Regions from separate parts of the Homo sapiens genome. Here all the other regions are linked to region 3. The links come from fine-mapping of genetic effects on gene expression. A gene starts in region 3. Each other region holds a variant in brackets. All regions are shown on one strand. Distances are between the middles of the regions. Region 1 has its middle 70 kb from the start of AVPR1A. Region 2 has its middle 38 kb from the start of LINC03056. Region 3 holds the start of AVPR1A (arginine vasopressin receptor 1A). Region 4 has its middle 94 kb from the start of LINC03056.

Region 1 (2,690 bases), 70 kb before region 3:
GCATCCAATAGAATTTTGCATCTATGATCAAATATGCTGGTATCTGTCTAAGCTATTCTTCCAGAAATTTAGCCTTCTATATATATCACATTTTGGAAATTTCTATTTGATTTGCTTTGACTAATCTAAACTCATCCTTAAATTTCAATGCCAAAGCAATTCTGTAGCTTCCTGTTTGATTAGATAATCATTTTTCTTTTATTGTCTTAAGGAAAAATAAAATTTGTAGCTTTTAGTTGAATTCATACAGAGGATGAATTCAGATAAATTTTTCTTCTTCTGCCATGTAAATTTCCATTCTCTTAGAGAATACCAGATAGTAATTTATTGGGTACTCTTTACCATGCCTGCTGTCTTCTGTGATGCTGTTCTGACTTTTTACTTTCCATTAACATTCATTTTAGAAAGTACGTCAATCATCTGTGGAATATTCCCCTCAGAGGACTTGCTTCCTCTCCCTTCCTCCCTTCAACCCCAAGGTTTACTTGCAAAAATGACTTACAAACCAAGCATTGCCAATAACAACAAATAAATATATGTTTTTAATGAAACACCATATTTCTTTCTCAAACATACAGATTTTCCTCAGGGTCTGAAATTCCACAACTTAATTAAAATGTACATTGTTCCTTAATAGTTGAGCTCGACAATACCCACTAAGATGGAAAGTTTCTTAGTTCTGCTGAATCTACACCTCCAGGTCCAAGTTTATTCTGAAATCAGTTTTGCCTTAGATGAACAATTTTTAATTTTTAATTCACAGTGTCTCTAATCGTGACTGTTTATTTGTAACATACTTATACATTATTTATATCTTTATAATAATGTCATTTACTGACCATAAGCACCATATTAAATTCTTTACATGTATAATCTCACTGTTTTATTGTGTCTTAACTTCTCTTATCCCAGTGCGAAGTAGAGTACAATGTTTGCTGAATAAATTACTGCATGCATGAATGCGGAACTAAGACACAGAAGCTTGATTTTAGATCATTTATGTTTTTGAAGGTACAACTAGGAATGGGTTCTTTTTCTTCTAAAATTAATGTAACATTGATTTTTATCTTAATACTTATACTTGTTACACAACAGGCACTGTTCTATATTCTTTACATGTTTTATCTTGTTTGTTCCTCAGAGCAATCTTATTAGGTACATACCATTATCAAGATCCCTCTTGTGAGAATAAGGAAATTGAGGCAGATTTGGCTGTTAGGTTAAGCAGTTTGCTCACAGTTGTAACATTCACATGCAGTGAAATTAAGATTATGAGCCCATGTGGCCCAGCACCAGAGAACACTCTCAGCCAGAGTATATAACCCTGCC[T/C]CCTGGAGGCAACACAGTTGGGATTGGTACAAAAAACACAGTTCTCTGATGCCAACACTATAATTGCCAACCCCATTGAGAAAGGAAAGAAACATTTGCCCTGACATCTTCCCTCCAGGCAGGGCTGGCCATGCCACTAGTAGCAAAGAGGAGGGATGTGTTGAGTCATCTAGTAAGTCCCTGTGAAGAGTGGATCCTGGCCCATCTGAACATCTGACCAGAAACTAGTGGCAGCAGTTGTAGAACGTGGTATATGCATGTGCTTCTCTTTTTATGGAATCGGAATCAGGGTGCCCCAGAAAGAAAACGAGCCCAATTTTAAAGGGGTTAATTGGGTATCGTCTTGATTCTTTGTAAGATTGGTTAGGTATTCAGGAATCAGGCTGACCAGGCACAAGTACCTACCAACCTTTGTAAAATATTCTACACTCTACAATATCATTCACACCTGACATTTAAAATATAGCAGTGGAGAATAAACTTAAACTGCTATGTTATTATCAAGTTGAATAAGCCAGACTCATATTTAAGGTAGGCATCACATAATTTAGAATACAGCCAGGAGAGACAGCTTCCATATAAGGAGGTAACTGCAAGAGGAACCCAAGATCATAAAGGATTTTTTTTTTCTGTGACAGAGTCTTCCTCTGTTGCCCAGGCTGGAGGGCAATGGCATGATCTCGGCTCACTGCAACCTCCACCTCCTGGGTTCCAGTTGTTCTCCCATCTCAGCCTCTCGAGTATCTGGGACTACAGGCATGTGCCAACATGCCCAGCTAATTTTTGTATTTTTAGTAGAGACGGTGTTTCACCACGTTGGCCAGTCTGGCCTGGAACTCCTGACCTCAAGTGATCCACCCCGCCTAGGCCTCTCAAAATGCTGGGATTACAGATGTGAGCCACCACACCTGGCCCCATAAAGGATTGTTTTGTTTTCCCTTGGATACTTTAGCAATACATTTTCTTTGTGTAGTGAATTATCCAAAATAGAAACCCTTCAGAAACAGAGTGATACAAAGGAACAATTTCTCATATATGAGTTCTAAGTTAATTTGTCATTTGAAAGAATAACATATTCATATCTTTTGATCTAATAATTTCAACTTTAGGAGCTTTTAGGAATGTCATTTAAAGAAATCATCAGAGTTACAAAGATTTGTGTTTGGTGCTATTCATTGCAGCACTACTTGTAATAGAGAAAATTAAATATGAAAAATTTTAGTCATGTATACAAAGAAATATTCTATGGCTAGAATAAATCATGGTATCAAAGAATATTTAATGACAATAAAAATGCTTCTGATGTTACGCAAGGTTAAAAAATGACACATAGCATGATCTCAATTTTGTAAAAAATAAAA
Region 2 (2,690 bases), 260 kb before region 3:
ATGGCTTATCTCCAAAAGACAGGCAATAACAAATGCTGGCGAGGATATGGAGAAAAGGGAACCCTGGTACACTGCTAATGGGAATATAAATTAGTACAACCACTATGGAGAACTCTTTGGAGGTTCCTCAAAAATCTAAAAATAGAGCTGCTTTATGATCCAGCCATCCCACTGCAGGGTATATACACAAAAGAAAGGAAATCAGTGTAACTAAGGGATATCTGTACTCCTATGTTTGCTGCAGCCCTGTTCACAGTAGCTAAGATTTGGAACCAACCCAAGTGTTCATTAACAGGTGAATGGATAAAGAAAATGTGGTACATATACATACTGGAGTGCTATTTAGTCATAGAAAAGAATGAAATCCTGTCATTTGCAACAACTTGGAGTAGAACTGGAGCTCATTATGTTAAATGAAATAAGCCACACACAGAAATACAAATATTGCGTGTTCTCACTTATTTTTGGGGATCTAAAACTCAAAACAATTGAAGTCATAAAGATAGAAGAAAGATGGTTACCAGAGCCTGAAAAGGGTAGTGGAGGGGAAGGTGAGGGGAACATGGGTATAGTTAATGGGTACAAAAATATTTAGAAAAAATGAGTAAGACCTACTCTCTGATAGCACAGCAGTGTGACTATAATCAATAATAATTTTATTACATATTTAAAAATAACTAAAATAGTATAATTGGATGGTTTGTAACACAAAGGATAACTGCTTGAGGGGATGGATACTCCATTCTCCAGGATGTGATTATTACACATTGCATGCTTGTATCAAAACATCTCATGTACCCCTAAATATTTTTGACAAAGTATACCTACTATGTACCCACAAAAATTAAAAATAAAAAATTTTAAAAAGAGAGAACATGAATTACCAATATCAAGAATTAAAGAATGGTATTCACTGCAGGTCTGATATCAAAAATGAGTAAAGAAATATTACAAATGACTTTTCACCAGCATATTTATAATTTAGATGAAATGGACAAATTACTTGAAAACTGTAACTTACTGATTCAAAATGTAATAGAAAATTTAATAGTACTTTCCTATTAAGATTATAAATTAGATGGTCACCTTATACATAAATAAAAAGCTTGTGTGTGTGTGTGTGCATGTGCATGTGTATAAAAGCTATTATTCTGCAGTATAATAATCTCACTATGATACTGTCTTCCCTTAAAAATAAAATGTAAATCTCTGGATATTGGATATTGGGCTTAGTTAAATGAATATTATATAAGGCTAAATAAGTGAACAATGGGAAGGATTCCCATTACTTTCTGACAATAACTAAAAGTCTTATGTTGAAATATAAATATGAAACTGTTTCATCTGTTATATTCAATTTTTTTCAAGAGCTTTTGTTATTCTCTTAAAGTTTAATTCTCAGTAAACATGTAAGTTTAATTCCTCTTACCAGCATAAAAGCTGAACTCTGCCTATGCATGTATGAATGAGCAAAAAATAAAAAGCAAAATCA[C/T]GGAAACTCAGCTATAGCTGTAGAAGTCTATGTGAAGACAAGATGACACCAGTTAGTTTCTTTAAAAAAAAATTTCTTTAGTGTCTGTGTCAGTAAACACTGAACCCAGAAAAGAAATTGACTGGCAAGTGAAAACTTTCAAAATCTTACATTCGTTTTACTAGCTGGGTCTACCCCAACAGGCACTTATAATTGTTTAAGGAGAAGCCACAGAGATGAAAATAGACCAGAAAGTGTGAAGGATATAAAAATCATCTCAGAGTTCTGTTCTCCAAAATAGCCTGTTAGAAACTCATATCCCAAGTGTTGCAAGGAGTCTGACAACCATACAAGCCAATTTCACCTTGTTTTCTTGTAATACAACCAGTCAAAGAATGGTGAGTTCCCAGTTTTAACACTAAAAGGACAGCACACTTGTTGGTTCTTACCAGATCTTAGACTCCTCTTTGATTTAGATCTAAACATGGCCTTAGCTATGGCATGTCCTGAAGGCCATCACTTGCTGGGTGTTCTCAGAATAGAGTTTGGTTTTTGTTGTTTTTATTCTGGAGGTGACTAAATAAAAAATGTACAGAACAAAAAGACTCACTGGAGAGCCAAGCAAGGCTATTTATTAACAAACCTCTAAATATTTTGGCAGAATTTGTTTTTTCTGTTGTTGATTTCTGGCCCCCCAATATGGGGCTCAGAGAAAACTCAAGACCCCCCAAAGGAGTTGCCTGAACCTGGCACTAAGATACCAGGTTGGGCCCATTGAAGCCTTCCTGAATTTAAGCTTCTTCTGGGGTGGAACTGGTAAGTCCTCCTGAGCCCCCGAGTCCTCTGTTTACAGAACCTATTCACGCTGTAGGCTGACATAAAACATGTAAAACAGAAATAAATCATAATAAATATATCGAATTCTGTATTTGTGGAAAATTTGCTATAATTCCAGAATATTGCTGAATATCACAGTGATTAGAATAATAGTAGTTTAGGAAATTGAGGGTATCAAGTAAAAAGGAATAAAAATAGATTTGTTCAGCTAAAATGTTGAAGAATGTAAGCCAGGTTTCACTGGAAAAGAGGAAGAGTAGGTGGAGTTCAGCAGCTGAGGATAAGTGGGTAAGGCTTAGCAGGACGCTGGCCTTTCACTAACTTAAGTCCTTAAGGGCACTGTTTGAGCCCAAGCTGAGTTTCTTCTCTTTTCTCTCCACTA
Region 3 (2,666 bases):
CACTAATAGTGTAATTTGTGACTTAAAAGAAAGTGAATTCTCTGAGTCAGTGACTATTACCTAATTGCTTGAAGGATTTTTTCCAGACAGGTGGTCTGGAAACCTTTTACCTATTACCTTCCATCCCTGAACCATTTCAATCTTCTGCCTCCTGGATATCTTGGAGAAAATGAACCAACACAACACAGCTTTCAGTTTTTAGAGCATTTCCCCCATACAGAACATTGTCTTACTTGATCTTCCCGATGACCTCAACAACAGGAAAGGCAGGTCCTTTCATTTCCATTTATAAGACGCACAGACCCAGGATTATCTAGCCACAGGAAGCAGGACTCCAGATTTCAAGTCCAGCATCTCAACGTGACAACCTTGGTAACTCTGCATGAACGGACTGGATAGTAAAGTGGAATTATTACTGAGAACTGCAATGAATAAAATCTTTTGCATTTTTTGCCTACGTTTCACAGAGGGTGATATTTTTCTGAGGCAATTAAATTTATACCACGGCCACAATACTGAAACGTTCTGACCAACAAAGTCATGCTCCTGCATCTACACAGCAGATAACTGCAGAAACGGCTTCCTTTCTTCCTTGTAAAATTGCCTGAAAACAGCTCCCCCTTGCTGTCCGTCGAGGCATATCTTCACCAACGTTAAAACAGAGCTGAGGGAGATCGCATTTCTGCCTCCCTCCCGCCCTGCAGAGGGGCTCCAGCTGTTCAGAGTAACGGATTACTAGGTAGGTGGTTGTTTCCCCTCCTTCCCAGGGCCTCTTTCCTCTCTTTGAGATTGCCTCTTTCTTACTCCTGAGCACAGGAGCCGGGCGGGTTTTCTGTCCCTTGCCCTGGACAGCACTGCCTGGATGGCCGCTGTCCGGCAGCTGCTCTTTGTCCACCCAAAAAGATGTCCCCACGACTCAGTAGTAACCAGACGGTCCCCACGGACCACTGCGGCCAAATTTCCGCCATCCCCGCTGTGGGAATCAGGCTTTTCCCGCAGAAAACCCCAGGAATCTAGAGAAAACTCCTTAAGTCCCTAGTCTCCATAGAGAAAACCAGGAGACACTCCCCCCAAACCCCGCTGTGAATACAGGCACAGCAGCCACTGGGGCTGCAAAGTGATGAGTGCGTTCTTCCCGTCGCAAACATAGGGTAATAAATAGCATGCATCAAAGACGTTACTAGGAAGAGATAGCTCTTTAAGTCACGAGCGGGGAGAAATGTTTGCCCCGGGAAAATTTGCCTGGGGAATAAAATTTGCCAGACTGCTGCACGGGTGAGCTCGGTGAGAAGGAAGAAACCCGGACTGGAGGAGGTGAGGTCGAGAGCCAGGTTCAGGTGCAGGAGCTAGATGCGTGGACGCCGGTGCGTGGACTGGAGGTTTCCAGGTACCGCGCTTAGCGTGCCTGTTGAAGTCAAATGCATGGTTAAGGAGGCTAGCGAGGAAGGCTAGTGAGGGAAGCTTGTGGAAACGGCTACGAGCCCAGAAAAGGCATGACTCGTCCAGTTGTCCAAGTTTTTGGAAGGGAAAAGCGGGAAAGCGCCACGATCCCACCTACTGTGAGGAGGAATCTGCGAGTCTCCCAGCTCCACCCCCTCCACAGTGATGCAGAGGACAAACACCGACGTAGGGAGAGGAAAAAATAAAACTCCAGGGAGCGGGGAGTAGGCAACCAGCAGTCTTCCGGCAATAGGGCGGGAGGGAGCGCGTCCCAAGGAAACAAGCACCGCATAAATACTTGAGTTGGGAACCCAGTGCTTCCGGAAGCTCGGAGCTCACCTTCCCGACCTCGCCGAAGTTGAAAAAAGGCAGAGCAGGGAGAGGGGCCAGCTCACCCTGCTGAGAGCTGCTCAGTGGGCAGGCGGGACGCTGCTCCGGGAGACGCCCACTGGAGGGATCGCAGAGCCCGGCAAGCTGCGAGCGCGCCAAAGACCCTGCGCTTCGGACGAGGAGCCCAAGTCCTCCGAGACGGGGAGGGAGCGGCCCGCGAGGGCTGGAGCTCCGAAGAGGGCCGAGTAGGAGCTGCATGGACAGCATGCGTCTCTCCGCCGGTCCCGACGCGGGGCCCTCGGGCAACTCCAGCCCATGGTGGCCTCTGGCCACCGGCGCTGGCAACACAAGCCGGGAGGCCGAAGCCCTCGGGGAGGGCAACGGCCCACCGAGGGACGTGCGCAACGAGGAGCTGGCCAAACTGGAGATCGCCGTGCTGGCGGTGACTTTCGCGGTGGCCGTGCTGGGCAACAGCAGCGTACTGCTGGCTCTGCACCGGACGCCGCGCAAGACGTCCCGCATGCACCTCTTCATCCGACACCTCAGCCTGGCCGACCTGGCCGTGGCATTCTTCCAGGTGCTGCCGCAAATGTGCTGGGACATCACCTACCGCTTCCGCGGCCCCGACTGGCTGTGCCGCGTGGTGAAGCACCTGCAGGTGTTCGGCATGTTTGCGTCGGCCTACATGCTGGTAGTCATGACAGCCGACCGCTACATCGCGGTGTGCCACCCGCTCAAGACTCTGCAACAGCCCGCGCGCCGCTCGCGCCTCATGATCGCGGCCGCCTGGGTGCTGAGCTTCGTGCTGAGCACGCCGCAGTACTTCGTCTTCTCCATGATCGAGGTGAACAATGTCACCAAGGCCCGCGACTGCTGGGCCACCTTCATCCAGCCCT
Region 4 (2,690 bases), 130 kb before region 3:
ATTTGCTGGTGACTCTATCCATCCTCTGGAGAATTAAACCTTTTATCAGCACGTAGTGGCCTTCTTTATGTCTAGCTAAAAGCGATATTTACTTTCTTCTTTCTCTTCCCCACACTTCCCTGCCTCCTCCTTCTCTTTATCTTTCCCTTTCACTTCCTTATCCGTTCCCTCTCTCCCTCTCCTCCTCCTTTTCATCCTCTTCTTTTTCTCTTTCCCGTCTTCTTTTTCCCACAATCTCTCTTCCTTCCTTTGCCCTCCCCTTTTCCTGTTCTCTTCCACCGTTGTCTGGTAAATCTTTTTTCATCATTTTCTTTTCCTTTTCTTATTTTTACTTTTAAAAATGTTATTTATGTAATTTCTTGTAGAGATCGGGTTTTGTTATGTTGCCCAAGCTGTTCTCAAACTCCTGACCTCAAGCAATCCTCCCACCTCAGCCTCCCAAAGTGCTAGGATTATAGGTGTGAGCCACCACCATGCCTGGCCCATCATTTTACTTTCAACTTTCTCACGTCTTAATGTTTTAGATGTGTCTCTTTTAAATAATGTATAACTGGACTTTCTCAGTTTGACAATCTTTGCCTCTTAACTAGTTTGTACTGTCTATAATAATGGACATATTTGGATTTATCTCTATCTTTTTATTTTCCACTTTGGATTTTCTATTTCTCTTGATTTTTCCATTTTCATTGTTTTTTTTATTTGACTTTAGACTTTTGGATTGGGGATTTTTGTTTTTTCTCTTTTATTCATTGTACTTGAGATTTATTACACTTCTTTAACCTGAAAATTGATTTCTTTCATTAACTAAGGATATTTCTTAGCCATTATCTATTTTAATACTGCCTCTTTCCTATTTTCTTTATTTTCTTATTTTGGAACTCTTGCAAGATTTAAGTTGAACCTTATCACTCTGACTGCTCTTTTTGCTAGTCTCTGCTGTTTTCCATCTCATTCTCTCTCTGTCCTACAATTTATGATTTCTTCACTTCTATCTTCCAGTCCACTAGTACTCTCTTTAGCTGATCATTTCTCCTATTGAATTCATACACTTAATTTCTAATTTCAATTATGATTTTTTATTTTCAAAAATTCTATTTGTTTTTAATTTTAAAAATCTTTCTAGTCAGTTTTGATAGTCTCTTTTTCTTAGCATTACTTTCCACTTACTCTTATACTTATTTGAACATATTAAATATTTTATAATCTTTATCTGATAATTCTAAACTCTGCATTCTTGGAAGTCCTTAATCTGCAGTTTATTGTCTCAGCTGAACTTTGCTCAGGAAAGTTGGCCTCCTCAAGTGTTTAGTAAGTTCTTATTTTGAGCCTTTGTTCCTTAGAATTTCATGAGTGGAACTTATTTGAAGGTTGTGTTTAAAGCAAATTCTCTCAGTGACAGTTCATGTTTGCTTCCGCCAGGCACTTGAGAACATTATCAACTTAGGGCA[A/G]CTGTAACTCAAAGTTATGGCCTGCAGTTTGGGAAGCCACATAAGCAGTGTAGTTTTAGGCCCCAAGCCAGTTGAGAGAGGTGGTTAGGGATTTGAAGAGGAGATACTGTCTGCTTTCTGCTCAGAACCAATGAAGAGAGTGGCAAATTGTCTTCCTCTATTATGCATCATTTTAGTATAAATTGCACTGGAAAGGGTTTCTCTCACAACCGAGTTTATCATATTGCTGAAAAAATGAAATTTAAATCTTATTGATGCAAATTTGTAAAGGGATTCCTATTGCAAGTCAACATGCAACAAATAAACACACTTTTAAATTATTTAAAATAAATAGCAAACTCCAAAAGGTATACCCTTCTATAACTGTAACTTCATTATCTGGATTTGTGTTTACTTATAAAATTATTTTTCTTTTTAAATACCAACTCAATAATTATCTTAAATACACTAATGTGTCACAGTGAGATGTGACTTTTTTTCACTATAGCAATTTAGCTAAGGCACAAAATACTTTTTTTTATAGAATAGCATTTTATGTTAGAATTATCATAGTAACCAGATTCCAAAACACTTCCTGAAGAGCCTTGTCTCATTGCATGGAAGTCCTTGTATAGGCCCCTTTCACTGTCTCCAAATGAGGCTGACCTTTGCAACCAGTAGGATAATATGGGAATTATAATGTGAGGATTTCAAGGCTAGGTCATAACAAAACATTGGGGCTTCTTTCTTGATGTGGATCATTCACTCTGGGTTAAGCCAGTCATAATGTCATAAGGGAAGTTAAGCAACCCAGTGGAAAAGTCTCCTGTCAAGCCAGCACCTGTTTACCTGCCATGTAAATAAGTAGATCCTCCAGCTCAGCCAAGCCTTCAGATGTTTATGTCCCTGCCCAACATCCTCACTATACCCTTAAGAGAGACTCCTAGCTAGAACCACCAAGCAAATATTTTCCTGAATTCCTGGCCCACAGAAACCGTATGAGATAATATATGTTTATTGCTGCTGTAAGCCACTACATTCTGGAGTACTTCGTTATTGTAGCAAAAAAAAATAATTACTACACAAGTTAATTATGCTGCTTTTTCATTTAACTGACAATTTTATTATGCTTTTTTTGTTGTTTTGAACAACAAACTGGTGATCTCATCAGGACATCTAGTAGAATAACAAGATCCATATAGGGACTGAACTCAGCTTAGAAACTCTTGCTGCTATGCACAATGGCCAAACACTGGCAAGAGT

The links. PIP is the estimated chance that this variant, and not a neighbour inherited with it, causes the effect.
Region 1: its variant is fine-mapped to the expression of AVPR1A in whole blood (INTERVAL, PIP above 0.99). The same link has a PIP of 0.9 or more in blood mononuclear cells.
Region 2: its variant is fine-mapped to the expression of AVPR1A in whole blood (TOPMed, PIP above 0.99).
Region 4: its variant is fine-mapped to the expression of AVPR1A in whole blood (INTERVAL, PIP above 0.99).

What each region holds. Positions count from the first base shown.
Region 1 is chr12:63,219,816-63,222,505 of GRCh38, reverse strand. No RefSeq gene overlaps it. Among named protein-coding and RNA genes, the nearest start is that of AVPR1A, 70 kb to the right of the region's middle. The variant T/C (reference allele first, on the strand shown) is at 1,330.
Region 2 is chr12:63,410,423-63,413,112 of GRCh38, reverse strand. No RefSeq gene overlaps it. Among named protein-coding and RNA genes, the nearest start is that of LINC03056, 38 kb to the right of the region's middle. The variant C/T (reference allele first, on the strand shown) is at 1,493.
Region 3 is chr12:63,150,206-63,152,871 of GRCh38, reverse strand. AVPR1A (arginine vasopressin receptor 1A) reads left to right here and starts at 1,671. Exons shown (of 2, transcript NM_000706.5): 1 at 1,671-2,666. The coding sequence starts at 2,036.
Region 4 is chr12:63,278,027-63,280,716 of GRCh38, reverse strand. No RefSeq gene overlaps it. Among named protein-coding and RNA genes, the nearest start is that of LINC03056, 94 kb to the left of the region's middle. The variant A/G (reference allele first, on the strand shown) is at 1,449.